2 separate regions of the Homo sapiens genome follow, and region 1 is linked to region 2. Evidence: fine-mapped expression QTL. A gene starts in region 2. The other region holds a variant in brackets. All regions are shown on one strand. Distances are between the middles of the regions. Region 1 overlaps WFS1 (wolframin ER transmembrane glycoprotein). Region 2 holds the start of WFS1 (wolframin ER transmembrane glycoprotein).

Region 1 (8,320 bases), 21 kb before region 2:
TGCCCAATGGCACCCTGCACAAGTGTCACCCACCACGCTCCCACACTGGCCTCGCTCCCTGAGCCCTTGCAGATCCAGGGGCAGTAGGCGCCTCTGCACGTCCTCCCTGGCCTGACGGACACGGCACTTTGTTTTCGGGGAAGGCATCTTCAAGGCACTGGCCTCCACTCTGGACCATACATGGAGAAATCTGCTAAGTGATGAAGTCTAGATGAAAGTCTGCGTCCAGCCCGCCCCACTGCCCCCTACACTGCACAGAAAGACCCAGGGGCCCCTTGCTTGCCATCCTAGCACTCCTGCCCAACACCGCCCCTGGTTTCTGAGCCTGACGGCGCAGAAAAGAAAGGCCTCTCTCCCGAGGACACATCCTTATGACGATAGATGATGACCCAAAGGTACCAGCGGCACGGCTGTAAGACACTCTTTGTTAGGCGCGAACCTCCCCACCTGCAGCTTCCTGGAAGGTGCCCTGCCTGAGGTGCGCGAGTCCTTGGGAGGCAGGCTCCGGCCTGACCGGGGTCTTGGTCACTCACCTTCAGACGCAGTGGCAGGTCCTCAGGGCTCTTCCCCGCCAGCTCGTCATCATCTTCGTCGTCCTGCAGGAACAGGCTGCTGGGGATGACGCCCTTGGCGTACTTCTTAGTGATCTCCACAAAGTCATCCAGCGCGATGTAGTTCTTGGCTGAAGCATGAGAGAAAACAGCATGGGCGCCCCACACTGCAGCCCCACTGCCACCCTCACACAGAGCAATGGGCTGGGGACGGTGGCGTGGGGCCAAGCTAAGAAAGGAGCTGAGTGGGTTCAGGTGGAGGAAACCCTTCCCTGGGCGGCCTGAGGGTTGAGGACCAGGCTGGGTGAGGAGGAAGGGGGCAGGTTTGCCAAGTGCCAGCCTCCACTCCTGGCCCCCGGCCCCTGGGTGTGCTGTCCCCCACCCCAAGTGTCCCTCTCTGCCTAGCTCCTTATGCCTGGGGCCACTCACCCACACCTTTCACCCAGTTCACCTGCCAAGCCTTACAACATGCACCTCCAGTGCATGCTGACACCCTCCTCTTCAGCCAGCGTGGGGCTTCTCACAGCACGGGTGACAAGCCGCCCTGTAGGGCAGTACCCTGCCAACCGCTCCATCGAACATGATCTGCGCCCCCAACCCCTCCATTCAACGTGATCCACCCAGGGCCTACTGTGCACCTGCTAAACCGCTCCATCCAACATGATCTGCCACACACCTACTATGTGCCTGCTGACACCTCCATCCAACAAGTGTCTGCCATGGGCCTACTACATGCCTGCTAACCCGTCCATTCAACATGCGTCCTGCCATGGGCCGACTTACCCCTCCATCCAACATCTTCCACCAAGAGCCTGCTACGTGCCCACTGATCCCTCCATCCAACGTGATCCGCGAGAGCTACGTGCCCACTGACCCCTCTATCCAACATGATCCCCTAGGAGGGAATGAGGCCCCTGAAGGACCCCAGTTGCCGTGGTGAGATGGTGACCAGGAGGGCCTCCAGGGGAAGGATGGGAAAGAAAGGACCATGCTGGGGCAGGGCAGAGGGAGACAAGCCAGGGTGCTGCAGAAACCCTAGGGAGGAGGCAGGCTGCATCCAAGATGGCAGCCGTGATAGTGGGCGCTGACAGACCTCCTAATGGATCAGCTGTGTGTGCAAGAGGAGAGGAGTCGGGGCAGCACCCAGGTGTAGCTGCAGCAAAGAGATGAGGCAGCCTTGGGGGGGCCCACACAAGTGGCAGGTAGCACAGGCCTCAGTAGCTCACTGTAGACTGAGCTGTGAGGTGACCATGGGACAGCCAGGTACAGGAGATGTGGAAGGAGCACGGGCTGGATGCAGCCTGGGCGGGCTGGGGGCTTGCGGGTTCAGGACGGCGTCTGACACACGAGAGTGGTCACCAATGCCACCCACACATCTCCCTACCAGAGCACAGTCCCTACGGGAAGACCCTGGTCCCCACAAGGAAGGCCCCTGTCCTCATAGGGATGAATACCTTGGGCAGGATGTCCTGTCCTGAGAGACAGGACATCAGTCTAGGGACCCCAAGAAGGAGCAGCCAGTGTGGCAGCAAGGGCCCCGGGCCTGGTGGGGGAGAGGGCTCTAAGGAGAAGAGCAGTCATCTCTGCCCACGCTGCTGACAGATCAAGTCAGACAAGGACAAGAAGTGACTGAGCAAGGGGGGTCACTGATGGCCTAGACGAGCCGCTTTGGTGGAATAACATGGCAGAGGCCTGAGAGCAAAGGACGGAGGACGAGAGAAGGGGATGACAGACGCCCCTTTCTGGGAGTTCTGTTGGAAAAGCTGGCAGAGAAACAGATGATGCCTGATGGGAACGTTCTGATAGAGGGGAAACAATGGGGGTGCTGGGGCCCTGTCCCTGAGGGCCTGGCGGAGGGGACCACAGGCTGGCAGCGCTGACTCCTAACTCGCCCCCAGCAACAGCGACAGGGCCCAGCAGCAGGTGTGCCCGGCTCATCACAAACCCCTGTGGGACTGGGAAGTGAGGTTGGGGTCCAGACTCTGCCTGCAGTGCCCCCCAGGATGGAGACCCAGGCTGGGCTGCTCCTGCCCAGAGGCACCTCACTTCAGGACAGCAGGCACCATGCCACCTCGGTGGCAGGACACTGTCACAGCCTCTCTGGTCCTCGGGCTTCCTAGAGTCACAGATTTCTTCCCACTTCCATGTGAGGTGTTTCTTTGTCTCCCCCAAATGGAGCAGGAAAACAGCAGCGCAAGCACCCATGTCCGCCCACGCAGAGGCGAGGGCTCTGACCACACCCTATGGACGGTTTCCTCACGGGCCCAGTGGGAAGGTGGGATCTGTGCTCCCACCTGTACTCTGCCCTACATGCCACAGAGGCTTCTAGGATGGGCGAGGTCCTTCAGTCCCCTTGTCTGATCATCTCACTGTTCAGAAGGGGAAACTGACACCCAGAAAGAAAAATGAGACCTGCCCATGTCACAAGAAGAGTCTGTGGCAGACCTGGGTCTTGGCCCATCCCCCCATTGATACTGAGCCCCCAAGCCTCCTGCCTGTCTATCTTCTCCAGGACAGGAGCTCCCAGTGCCTCAGACTGCAGAGTCTACCCCACGTGGATGGAAGACAGTGAGGCTGGCCAGCTGCACGTGGAGGATGTGACGTCTCTTCTCAGTCTTTGACCACAAACATCCCAGAGGCACCCCCAGCTCAGTGTGCCCCAGAGACTCTATCCCCCAACCTAGGCTCTGCCCACTCTGTTCCCTGCCTACCTACAAAGGGCCTACGCTGGGGCAGAGCCCCTTCCACACCCTGCTGGG[T/GT]CTCCTGGGCCTTTGCTCATGCTGTTCCCTCTGCCCGGAGCCCCTTCCCCTAATGCCCTCCTCATCCTTCCCCACTCAGGACCCCCCCGCCAGTCCCCACCCCCAGTATTTCCTTGTCCAAGAGGGACTGGCACATCATGGTTTCTGTCCTGGGTCTGCCTTCCCTCCAGTGCGTGCGCTCCAGGTGGGCAGGGTCTACTCCCAGCGTCCAGAACACTGAGCCCCAAACGGACCGCCTGAGATCCTAGCAGGGCCAGGATGGGGTCGCACAGGAAGGAGAGGTCGCCCTGCAGGCGCAGGCTGGGAGGCACGGGTGAGATAGGGCAGGCCAGGATGGAGTCGCACAGGAAGGAGAGGTCGCCCTGCAGGTGCAGGCTGGGAGGCATGGGTGAGACGGGGCAGGGGCTGCACTCACACTCGCTGCTGACCAGGCGCTCCAGCATGCGCCTCTGCTTCTGCAGGGACTTGGGCACGGGGCCTGGCTGCGCCCCTCCATCTGCAGGGGACAGGGTGGATTAACAGTCAGACAAGTTGACTATCTCCTCGTGCCCTGCAGCCCACCAGAAACTGGCGCACTGTTCCTAGGGCACGCCAGTTCCAGGGGCATCCTACGTTCTGGGGATCATAGGGCCCCCAGGGCAGGCAGAGCAGGGGCCACACCTCTGTACCTCCAGTAGCTGGGGTGGACTCAGCACCACGTAGCGTGCTCCCACTTGGTGATGGACACAGTCCGTCCCATTGGTAGACGTGGTCACAGAGCACTGGGCAGAATACCCTCTGGTTTATTCAATGAGTGAGCACTTGAGCCAGGGCAGATGCTGTCAAAATGCCACCCACACACCTCACCACTAGGGCACGGTCTCTACAGGAAGGTTCTGGTCCCCTGGTCCCCACAAGGAAGGGCCCTGTCCTCACAGGGAAGGTCCCGGCTCCTGTGGGAAGACCCAGCCCCTGAGGGAAGGTCCCAGCCCCTATGGGAAGGTCCTGGCTCCTGTGGGAAGGCTGGCGCCCAGGGAAGGCTGGTGCCCAGGGTGAATCCTCGCACCGTGCTCGTTGACCTGGCCGACATTCTCCAGCAGCTCCGCCACGGCCACCTGCTTCTTCTTCTTGGGGTTGAGCTTCCAGTACATGACCAGGGCTGCCTTGCGCACGGCCCTCTCCAGGTCGGTCTCGGAGGAGAGCTGCCTCACCTCCCGTTCGTTCTCGGACGTGATGCCTGAGGGATAGGATGTGGTCAAAGGCCTTGTGTGCCCTGCCTAGGCTTTCGGTGCCACTCTGACCCTGCCAACTCTGCCTGGAAGGCTTTCGAGCGAGACTCATAGAAGGTGTCAGGACTTGGTTACCAGGGAAGGATGCATGGACATCTGACTCAAGAGGACATCGCGCCACGCCCACTCTCCAGCTGGGAGGCCAGACTGGTCTCCCACCAGACGCCCCCAAGTGCCCCCTACATGCTGGCGGGAAGAAGGCAGCCTCTTCCTGTTCCTCCCCTCTCTCAGAGGTGCAGACCCGGAGGCACAGGCCTGTGTTCTGGCTCACTCAAGGTCACACAGTCAGAAAGAGGCAGAGCTGTCTTGAACCCAGGGTGGACTCACTGCAGTCACCAGCCTGGGTGCACTGGCAGGGCCACCCCTGTGTCTACAGAGCTTTCCTCTGTCTCACACACAGCCCAGCCCTTTCTAAGGAAGGCTTGGACAGCGGGGAGAGGGAGAGCAGGTTTTACCGCTGGTCAGCAGCTGCCTTCCTCCCTTTACCCCCAACGGCCTGGGACACTGGCACAACCAAGCAGAGGGCAGGAGGACTGGCACGGGGGTCTGGATGTTTTTCTCCTTTTGAACATTTCCAAAATTTTCCACATGAGCATGTATTTCTTTTCAAATCAGAAAGCACAACTGCACATCAGAAGGTGTGTGCAGCTGGGGGAACACGGGGCCAACCGGCCTCCTCCCTTGCACGCTCTGCCCCAGCAGCCTCTGGGCTATCCCTGGCACCCAACAATGAGCCGTGTGGGCCGCCTGAGCCCCCTCCAGGTCATTCCAACTGCTCTGGAATCAGCAGGCTGGGTTGGTGAGAAATTCTGGCTAACAATGCCACTGTTAGTTTTTCAAAATCATCAGTTTAATTTTCAAAGAGAAGACTCTGTATAATAAATGTAACTCTTAAAATATGATACAAGCTGGGCATGGTGGCTCACGCCTGTACTCTCATCACTTTGGGAGGCCAAGGAGGGTGGATCCCCTGAGGTCAGGAGTTTGTGACCAGCCTGGCCAACCTGATGAAACCCTGTCTCTGCTAAAAATACAAAAATTAGCTAGGTGTGGTAATGCACGCCTGTAATCTCAGCTACTCAAAAGGCTGAGGCAGGAGAATTGCTTGAACCAGGGAGGTGGAGGTTACAGTGACTTGAGATCGCACCCCTGCACTCTAGCCTGGGCGACAGAGTGAGACTCCATCTCAAAACAACAACAACAAACACAGAAGGAAATACACCAAAATATGGGGAGTTGCTTCTGGGCTTCAAGGTTATGAGTAATTTGTATCTTTATGTTTTCTACATAGTCCAAGTTTTCTATGATAAGCATAAAATACTCTTACAATCTGAAAAAAAAGGTATCATTAGAAAAAACACCTTTGTGACACCCACTTTCATCTTTCCCTGAGGCGTGGAACCTTCAGGAAGCACACTGCCCCACGGCACCAGGGACAGCCACTTCCCTTGCGCAGGACAACGTCCTAACTCACCACCCCTGGCCTGAGCTGCGTCCCTTTCCTCCCCTGCCTCTCTGTTTGAAAGAGATTATCTATGAAGGGTCAGCCTGCCTCCTCCCAAAGTGAACATGCTTGTCCAGGTCTGTGTGGGCCCACAGCCCCTCAGCTGGTCTGCCCAGACTCGACGGACATCAGCTCAGGGGCATGGGCCACTCTGACTGCAGGCCACATTACAGTCTCCAGCTTTGCCTCAGGGAAACTGCCTCTCAGCTGAACCCAGGATCGATGTCTCAGTTTGGATCAGAACCCAGCAGGGAAGCAGGATGTATAGTTACCACTTGGAGATACCAACACAAGCCAAAGAGAATGAAAATGGCTTGGTCTGTTAAATATCCCATGTTAAGTCCAGAAACAGTGTCTAAAATGAGAAGGCCACCAGCAAAACAGAAACTGAAATTTCCCAACAGCATCACCAGCGTTAGGTTTGGTAAGATTTTAGTTGTTCAGTTAGCAAGCAGCATTACAAGCTGCTCAACCCTCCAGAGGCTGTTCTAAGCCTCACACAGACCCACCTCTTCTGTCCGCCAAGCACCGGCGAAGCAGCTTCACAGCCTCGCGACGGCCCTGCTTCGCGGCGAGGACCAGCCAGTCCACAGCGGTGCAGCTGTTGAGTTCTTCATCCGTGTCGCCGGCCAACTGCAGGTAGTGCTTCCCCACCTGCAAGCCAGACACCAGTCAGCCTCCAGATTCTCCGACCCTCTCCCACCCCATGCTCCCTGCCAGCCCACCTCCTTTCACCCACTTCCCTTTGTCACCCAGGCCAGGAAGGAAGGGGCAGAAATGGGGTCACACCAGGCATGTCCACTAGGCTAGGCCCTACTGAGCCTCCGGCCACTCGCTCCTCAAAACACGGTGAGGAAGGTGTGGCCACCCCATCCACACGGCGAGGGAGACACGGGCTCCGACTGGTACTGGTACAGGTTCTCTTCCTTGAGTTGCTCCTGCCTGCCAAGGCTCACCATCAATGCATGGAAATCAGAACCATGACTGGGTCCTTTACACCTCTCAAAACAGTCAGGGGACCATAGAAAGCCAGGGCTGGAGAGACGCCAGCTAACCAAGGGTTAGCACTGGCCCACTGCCTGTTTTTGCAAATAAAGTTTTATTGAAATACAACCATAACCATTCATTTACATGTTGTCCATGCTGCTTTTACGTGCTCCACAGCAAAGCTGAGCAACACGGCAGAGATTGCGCAGAGTCCAGAATATTCACTATCTGGCCCTTTGCAAAAAGAATCCCTGCTGAAATGGTCCAGTCTTCTCATTCTACAGATGGAAAAAGTGAGGCCCAGGGCACAGAGAGCCCATAAAAGGGCTTACTATGCTCCCCCCGCCTCCAAATGCCTGGGCAAAAGGATGTGGGAGGAACTTTAAAGTACAATATGGCTGTGAGGTCAGGAAAGAAATTTTTTTTTTTTTTTTTTTGAGACAGAGTCTTGCTCTGTTGCTCAGTTGGGAGCGTGGTGGTGCGATCTCGGCTCACTGCAACCTCCACTTCCTGGGTTCAAGTGATTTTCCTGTCTCAGCCTCCCAAGTAGCTGGGATTACAGGCATGCACCACCATGTCTGGCTAATTTTTCTATTTGTAGTGGAGACACGGTTTCATCATGTTGGCCAGGCTGGTCACGAACTCCTGACCTCAGGTGATCCACCCGCCTCAGCCTCCCAAAGTGCTGGGATTACAGGCGTGAGCCACCGCTCCCAGCCAGAAATTCTTAATTTATGGTTTCGCGTGGAAGCTTTTCTCCTCTTTAGGGAGAAGAGGGGGCAGGAAACTGCTCAGGATAACTGTGGTCACTTGCTTGAGCCCTGTGCAAGGGGACAGAGTGAGGTGGTGAGAACTTGCCTCCACAGAGGACACAGGACCCCCTGCCACCTCCCGTCTCAGCGTTCTGCTGGCTTCTCCCCTCACCAGAATTCAAAATCACTGTATTTCTGTGTCTTGTCTACTTGGGTTTTTTGGGTCTGCTTCTTCCACTAACCTGTCACCCATGAAGAGAGGGCCACATCATGTCCCCAGCACTGGCACAAAGCCCAGCCCTTGGCTGATGCCCAAGTGAATGGTCACCGCTCTGAGGGCCCCGTGCACACAGCTAACAGCCAGGTGAAAGGCCAGTCAGGGAGACAAGAGTGGGCAGCATACACAGTGTATGTTGAGGGGTGGCACTGAGCAGGCAGCTGCAGGAAGCCAGGAGGTCATCCTGGAGGAGGTGATGCCCAAGATGAGGTGTGAGTTGGA
Region 2 (8,263 bases):
AGGGACCTGCTCAAGGTCAAACAGCTCCAGGTACCAGACCTGAAATTCAAATCCAGACCTGCCCAATTCTAATGCTTCTGCAAGCTCATTTCTGAAAAAGACGACTTTGAAATCAGACCGCCATGCCACTGCACCCTCTCTCCCGGGGCCCATTCACTGCAAAACACTGGCTACCCTTCAACATCAGCATACAAATGCTGACCTCCACACTTCTGTTTCTGCAGGGCCCTCTTCCCGGAATGCCTTCTTACCCCCCTCCCCCAGCCTAGACCCTAAGCACCCTTCAAGTCAAGAGCTCCAGCGATACCTCCTTTGTGGGAGCTTCCAAGCTATGTCTGTCCCGAGTCCCTGTCTTCCTCACCTACTCAGGTAAACACACAGCACTCAGGCGATCACCTCTCCATCAGAGCCCTCCCTCTGCTAGAGGTTACAGCTGGAAGCAACATGGTGTGGGGCGTCGGTTACCCTTACTAGTGGCCACATGACCTCACTGTGTCTGTTTCCCCATATGTAAAATGGGGATAGCACCTCCCACATAGGGGTGCTATGGGGATTACGTGTGTGGCAGAAGAGAAAGCAAACTATTGGGCATTAAAAAAAAACTAAGCCGGCCAGGCGCGGTGGCTCACGCCTGTAATCCCAGCACTTTGGGAGGCCGAGGCGGGCAGATCACAAGGTCAGGAGATCAAGACCATCCTGGCTAACACAGTGAAACCCCGTCTCTATTAAAAATACAAAAAAATTAGCCAGGCGTGGTGGCGGGCGCCGATAGTCCCAACTACTGGGGAGGCTGAGGCAGGAGAATGGTGTGAACCCAGGAGATGGAGCTTGCAGTGAGCCGAGATCGCGCCACTGCACTCCAGCCTGGGTGACAAAGCGAGACTCCGTCTCAAAAAAAAGAAAAAAGAAAAAGGAAAAGAAAAACCCTAAGCCATTACTCCCAGGTGCTAAACAAAGGCATGTTCAGTTGGAAAACACTTCATAAAAGGAATTTCAGGAAAACAGATTCTAGCTGGCCTATGTACCATGTATGTCACACTGCAGTTAAAAAAAAACTGTTTAAAGTAAAATCTCTGGTTAGTAAGAATGGATGAATACAGGAGGATTAATTTTCAGGTTCCCTGGGGGTTGGCCAAGTCTGGTTTGGATCAAAGGGCTTGTTATTTCAAAACAAGCACAACAATTCCTGGTCATGGTTGGTCACAGGGACAATGAAGATCAGAAAAGATCTCCCGGTGGAAGGACCTGCTGTCTGGTCCTTCCCTCTCTGAGTCTTCCTGCATGTTACAGCCACTGTGAGCCCTGAGGGCAGGGCTGCAGCTTATCCACTCGGAAGACCGGCTGCCTTGCCAGGAATACGTTAAGCACTTAATGCATGTGGGCAGAAGCCTGAGGCAGCCTGGCCTAGGGCAGGAGCACCATCCAGGCAATAATGCTGTGGGACCTTAGCAAGTCCCTCCCCCAGACCCCAGCATCCAGGCATCTCCAGCTGCATCCACTCTGCACCCTCAGATCCCCACCTGCACGGTGGGGCACTCAGCCCCAACTCCCTACTGGTGACCACAGCAATGGCTTAGAAGCCGTCACTGTGTAAGATCCACAAAACCAAAGTTGCTAGCATTCTTTCCTCATGAGCAATGAGGCATATTTTTATCCCGTCCAAACACAAACACCGGCACCAAGGAGTTCAGCTGAGAGGCCGCCACCTGGAGAGGGCTGCAGGCACCATGCATCCACTCAGACCCGCAGCAGAATGACCACACGTGGCCTTCTGCCCTAAGGGCTCTGGCCCTCACCCAGGCCACCCCCATTCTGTTCTCTCTGGGGGGGCAACCCCATCTCCCAAGCCAGTGCCTCAGAAACAGCCCCTGTGGGAAGCCAAGATGATGTTCACTCTCTCTGATCAGTGCCTCTGCCTCCAGGATGCCAGTCCAGGGGAGTCACTGGAGATGCCCTCGGGGCTCACACACAATGTCCATCATATGGCACTTTCAGCACTGTCCAGAAAGGGGCTGGCTATAAAGCCTACACCCCTCCATATGGTGCAACGCTGTACAGCTGGTAAACGTGACCTCGTACATGAACGTTTTGAGACAAGGAAAAGGTGGGCCTAACACTGTTAAGGCAGGATTTAAAGCAGCAGAAGATATTAGCCGGAGTCTGTTTAGGATGAAAACAAAATTTATCTGCCAAAAAACGGAAGAAAACGCCCCCTAAAAAAGATACTTGTTGTCTCTGGGGATAAAGCTTATGCGCGGTTTCATTTTATTCTTCTTTTAAACATATTTCCCTAGTTTTCTATAATGAATGTGTGATGTTTTTGAAATTAAAGCAAATGTTATTTTAAAACCCATCTGTGAGCAAGCTCTAAGGGAGCAGGCCCAGGAGGTCCTGGCCCTGGGATGTCTGCTCTGGCCTGGCCTGACCCAGCCCCCTGGCACAGGGCTGCTCCTCAAGACAAGGGCACAAAGCCCTTGATGGATCCCAGGTACCTATTTTTGCTCAGAGTATTAAGGGACAAACCAAGGAACATTCCAGCTCTATCCAATGTGGCACATTCACAGGAACAGAGGGGTTTGAATTGGGACTGCCCCAAGCAGCATTCATGACGGCCATAGTGGCCAAGCCCCCACCACACACCTGGCACCTGCTCCAGGCCTGGCCTGGATGGGCAGCAGGTGTGGACTGAGGGTAGGTCCATCTTGTGCCAAGCACTGTGCTGGGCCCCCCTGCCCTAGAGAAGTCTTGTCCAGGGCCAGCATTGGAGCAGCTTCATCTAGATGGGAAGGGTTAACACCTAAACAGACACCCACAAAGACGGCACAGAAGGGGGCCCTCACTCCACTGTGGGAAGAGGCAGGCCAGAAATCCTGCAGGAGGACTTGACTGAGCCTTCTGGACAAGCAGGCAGGAGCCAGGCAAGCTGGGAGGTGGCTGGGCATTCCAGCAGGGGTTGTGCCCAGAAGAGGAGGCAGCAGAGGGACAGTGAGCCAGGCTTGTGGCCAGGAACACGCAGGTGGCTGGGAGGTGACTGCTGGAGAGAGGACACAGGAGGGAGAGGCTGAGTGAGCAGCGAGGCGGGTCCCTGAGGGCCCGAAAGAATGCCGGCTCCTGGCTCGGGAGGCGGACCTGACCCGATAGCCCAGAGGGAAGTGGCAGCTGAAGAACCAGCAGGGCTGCGTGCAGCCAGGCCCGGATCGGGACCAGGGAGGAGCCTGGGGGTCGTCCAGGGAGAGGCGAGGGTCCTGAACCAGGGCAGGCATCCGAGTGAGGCTCAGGAGCCAGGAGAGACCCAACTGGGAGTGAGGAATGAAGGGCACAGGGGGTGGTCTGGTTTGTGGCTGGGGCTGGCTGGCTGTGGTGGTACCACTTCCGGAAGTAGGGAAGTGGGAGGGGAGGGGAGCCGTGTAGGCATAAAGCTCCCGACCTATTATGATTCTTATTGCCACCGTCAAGGATGGGTGTTTCGGGTCTGTCTGGCAGTGCAGACATCTCTGGGGGTTGAGACTGAGCTGAGGTCCCCTCTGTGACCAGCCCCAGAAGCCTGTCCAGCACTGGTCCGGGATGGGCAGGGGAGGCCTAAGTCAGAGACGCCCTCCATGCTCTTCCATCCTGGGAAAGAAGGTGAGATGGGGTCTCCCAGCCAACTTTTCCTGTGTCTGCGAAGGGAGGACAAACCAGCAGGTAGGGAAAAGAGGCTGAAATGTGGAGAAGCCTCCCTCCAAATCCCTGGTTGGATACAACGGAGACCCCATGGGAATCACAGACCCTTGGACACAGAAGTAAACAGGTGGCGACAGTGACAAAGGTGGCCTCTGGGCTTCCCGTGGGCTCCCTCTCCTGCTGCAGAGAACAGGCAGCCAGCACATGGGGTACCCAGGGCACAGCTCCTTGAGTGATGGATGCTGGCATAAGAGAAAGCCCTTTACAAACTGCAAAGCCCTGGGCCAAATGCCAGGGGTCACTGTCCAAGGTGAGGAGAGACGGGGCTGCTTCTGGAGAGATAGGGCAGAGGCCTCACACCAGGCTCTGCCCCATCAGCTTCGTGGTCCTGGGCTGGCACCAAACCCTGCTGAGCCTCAGCTTCCTGGGGTGTCAAACGGGGACTATAACTTCTCCGCCTAAGGCTACTGAGAGGGTTAAATCTGGGTGGTGGGGGGTTGCACAAATGCGACTTCCTTGGAATTCATAACATCATCTGCTAAGTGGGTGAGAGGCCAGGGCGCCATCACATCCAAAAGGGCTGGGTAGGATTCTCCAGAAAGTTTTCGTTGATCAAACAAAAAGCTAATGATCCAGAGGGTGGAGTTCATACGAGGCAGGGTCCAGGTGCTGCCACTGAAACCCCTCAACTCTCTACTGAGGGGCCCCGAGAGAGAGAGGAACTGCCACAGCGCTCCTAAGTGGGCTGTGGGGATTCAGAATGACCCCTAAGCTGCCCCTCGGGCGGGCCGGGTCCCCCTGGGGGACTGAACCCCCCTTCCCCCCCACAACACCTCCCGGGGGCCCAGGCGCGTTCCAACGGCCGGGCGGGCACCGAGGGCGGCCGTGGGTCCCGGGACCGCGGGGGAGGGGCATGACGGGGCAACTCGGGGGGGATGGCGCGGGGCGCGGGGAGGGGGCCTGCCCGCCGGCCGCTCCGCCTCTCGGGCCTGCTGTCCCGCCCGCGGCGGGGCTCCAGGCGACAGCGCGCGGGGGACCGGGGCGCGCCCCCCGGGTGACCCGTTCGGGCCCGGAACAGGGGTCGCCTTGCGCGTTGCAGAGCGGGCGGGACCCCCGGCCCTCCAACTTCGGGGACCTTGTCGGGACTTTGGGGCCAGCCACCCATCAGCTCGGAAGGGGAAACTGAGGCCCGAAGAGGACAGTGCCTCAGGGCTCTTGCCCGCCTCCTGCGCGCTGCCCACAGCCACCGCGCCACTGCCCCAGCGCCGAAGTACTCACCGGCCCGTGAGTGGGCCGCACGCGGCGCTGCGACGCCCTGGGGCCTCTGGGCCGGCAGAAAAGTTGTTCGGGAGCAGCTGAACGCGGCGCAAACGGGAGATCTGCGGCCGCGGGGGAGCAATCTGCACTCGCTGCTGAAGAGCCGGCTAGCGCGGCCTTCTGCACGAGGGGGCGGGGCAGGGGCGGGGCCTTCGGCCTCCCTCCACTCCAGACGCGGCCCCCCGGATGCGGCGCCAGCTCGGCCTGCTGAGTGGCCGGTGTAGCCGCCAATCACTCCACATCTCCGCCAATCACGGTGCGCCTCGCCTAGCTGCGGCCCGGCACTCCCCCTGCGTGGTTGGGCCCGAGGGGCCAGAAGGCGGGTCCGGCTCGCCCACAGCGAAAGTTTCCGAGCGGACTCGGGCCCCGGCCCCGCCCCCGCCCCGCCCGCGGAACGTCCAGTTGCTTAGCGAGGCCGCTCGCCTTCTCCTGTAACAGGTGGTTTGGACCCGTGGAAAAGGCTCCGGCCACCTTTCATCCACCACTCCGGCCTCAGCGTCCCCAACTGCAGATTCATTATATTTGCTGTTGCAATATTAACACACGTCTTGAGCGCCTATTCCGGCGCTGCAAGAGAGTCTAAGGGCTCCCCTAATAACAGCAGCAGAGATGGAAAAATGGGGCCTGTTTGAAACGAGTGTCTGCAGCCAAGTACTGCTTTCAGTGCCCAGAATCAAATGCAGTGTAGCAAGCTTTTCACACGGTGACTGTGGGATTCCTTTAAAGTGTGTGTTAGCCCAGGGAGTGGGCAAGGCTCAGGCAGTTTGGAGACTCTGGGAGTTTGGTTCCTGTCTGGGAGGCGTGGTTTGGAGATGAGGGCGAGGGTCTATCCTTGAGAGGCCCTGGGGAACGTGAGACCCTGCCTGCTCTGTCTCTGGTCCCCACAACCAACCTGAGCTACCTGTCCTAGTTATCACAGCAGAAACTGGGGCTCGGAGTGACTGTCAGAGATAATGCTTACCAACATGTTGGGAGCAAATATTCCAGATGGCTTTGGAGATGAGTTCTGAACACACTACTTCGGAGGACTTTTGTCAAAGCGGCGTAGTTCATGTCAGTCACCTCATTTGATTCTCCAGCTGCCCCCACTGCCCACCCCCGATCCCCAATGTTCACGTGTGACCCTGTGAGGCTCACAGAGGAAGGAAGAACACCTGCCGTCAGCCTCGCCTGCTCTGTCCAGGTTGGCTTAGGGGCTTTCACAGCTTTCAAGGGCCCCCCTAGTGACCCAAGGAGGGAGGTGGCACTGAGCCCATTTTTTATTGATGTGAAAATTGAGGCTCAGACATAGTTATTTGCCCAAAGTCTTGAAGATGTCTTTCCACCTTATCACACACTAACTGTAGAAAATTTGGAGAATTACTAAAAGTAGAAAGGAGAAAAAAAATCACTCAAAGATGATCACTGTTCACATTGTGAGATTTATGCACATTTAAGAAAATAATAAATATTAATGTGAACACACAATCACAGAGAGGCTGAAGCACTTCCCAAACCCTTTGCAGGGGCTCATTAAGCAGAGAGAAGAGGACAGATTGAAAAGTTCCTCCTGTGGAGGTCTAAGGGAAGAGAGGAAGTGCAACAAAAAATCTACAAGATGGCTTAAGGAGCCTCTATCAGAACACAGCAACACTGAACATACTCCACGGAGCTAAGAGACTGAAAAAGCAACAGGCAAATTCAGAAAGAGAAGAGTGGAGGTGAGGACAAATGAGCAAACTGGAAGATAATGTGGAGTAAATGCTTCATGATGTAGAGGAAAAGCACATGAAAATCATCAGGACAAAAAGCAGAGACTGGAAAGACAGTTCCAGGAGGTGTATTGCACAAAGGACAGGTACTCCAGGAAGAGCTGGAGGGGAAACAGAGGTGAGCAAAGTGCCAGGAGAACGTGTCCCTGGAAATCCCAGATGCCAAGGATAAAGAGACGGTCTTGCAGAGTTCCAGAAAGAACAGGTCACATCTAAGGGGAGAAAAGTTGAAGTGGTTCCTAGGGGACTTTGGAGCAATGTCCAGGGACTCTGATGATAGGATCAAGGATCCTTACCATGGCTACTACAGGATTCATCTATGTGGACAAAAGAGAGAAAATATCCACTGTGGCAAGACAGAGAAAGGACCTCAGTGATGTCCCCTTTCAGAGGAAGATATTCAGAGTTCCCCCGTCACCGAGACAGTTCAATCACAGTAGAGATTTCAAGATAGAGCAAACGCTCAGAACAGGAAGTGGTGTTAAGCAATGACCCTTGCAAAATATACAGTATGGATAATCCACATGTGCCTGTGATTTTGTACTAGCAGTGCCACATAAGGATTCTTAAAACATAAGCTACATGCTTCAAGAGAAAGTTGTATTAGCCTGGAACTAAAAAAAAAAATAGAATCTTATCACAGAGAAGTCAGAATATTTTAAGATCACATTTGGTTGAGGGGAGAAGGAGGAAGTAAAAGGATCTGATTTGGTGAGTGGGGAAGGAAAGCCTTATTGGTGGTTGGGAGGGGTGCTTCATTACCATTTACTTTTAATACATTAGCAGGGAAAGATTGGTTTAATTATGACTCTCAGCTGGGGAAGGAAAGCCTTATTGGTGGTGGGGAGGGGGCTTCATTACCATTTACTTTTAATACATTATCAGGGAAAGATTGGTTGAATTATGACTCTCAGGAATTGGAAAGTAGCAACTCACGGGAAAGAAGCAGAGTAGAACTCCTGAATTACTAGGTAGAAGTTGGGGGAGGGGTGGAGGGAGAGTAAGGAAGCAAAATTAAGGGGGAAAGTAAATAATAGCAAGAACAATAAGCTTAATAATAGTAAACATAAGATGAGATAAAATAAATAAAGCCATGGCTACCCGCCTTCGTAACACGGTGAATGGGCTGAATTTCCCATCCAAAGTCTGTAAGATTGGGGCAAAAACTAAAGTCCAGTTAAGCGCTATTTACAAGAAACACACCAAAAATATTGAGAAGTAGAAGATCACAGCAGACATTTGAAAAATGGCAAATTACTATTGATAAGGAAGAACGCATGATGGAAAGCATTCACGGGAAGAGTGGTATTATGTAAGGGTGCCAGGCACAATCCACAAAGATTTCATTGTCATGAATCTGAATGAGCCAGAAAATCTAGTAGCCACACACTTAAAGCAGTAACTGCTAGAAATACTAGAACTTATTAAAACACAACTCTGGTGGGAGAAAGAGCCAGCTGTTCAATGCTATCTTTTCTAGGACACCTGTCCTCATTCCCCCAAGAGCTGAGCTCTGCATGTTGCTGCTGAGT

Evidence for each region. PIP is the estimated chance that this variant, and not a neighbour inherited with it, causes the effect.
Region 1: its variant is fine-mapped to the expression of WFS1 in whole blood (TOPMed, PIP 0.93).

What each region holds. Positions count from the first base shown.
Region 1 is chr4:6,287,403-6,295,722 of GRCh38, reverse strand. It overlaps WFS1 (wolframin ER transmembrane glycoprotein), which reads right to left. Exons shown (of 8, transcript NM_006005.3): 4 at 6,592-6,736; 5 at 4,356-4,526; 6 at 3,726-3,806; 7 at 534-682. Among named protein-coding and RNA genes, the nearest start is that of WFS1, 22 kb to the right of the region's middle. The variant T/GT (reference allele first, on the strand shown) is at 3,311.
Region 2 is chr4:6,266,693-6,274,955 of GRCh38, reverse strand. It overlaps WFS1 (wolframin ER transmembrane glycoprotein), which reads right to left and starts at 5,106. Exons shown (of 8, transcript NM_006005.3): 1 at 4,942-5,106. RefSeq lists an enhancer at 1,549-2,098 and a silencer at 5,019-5,128.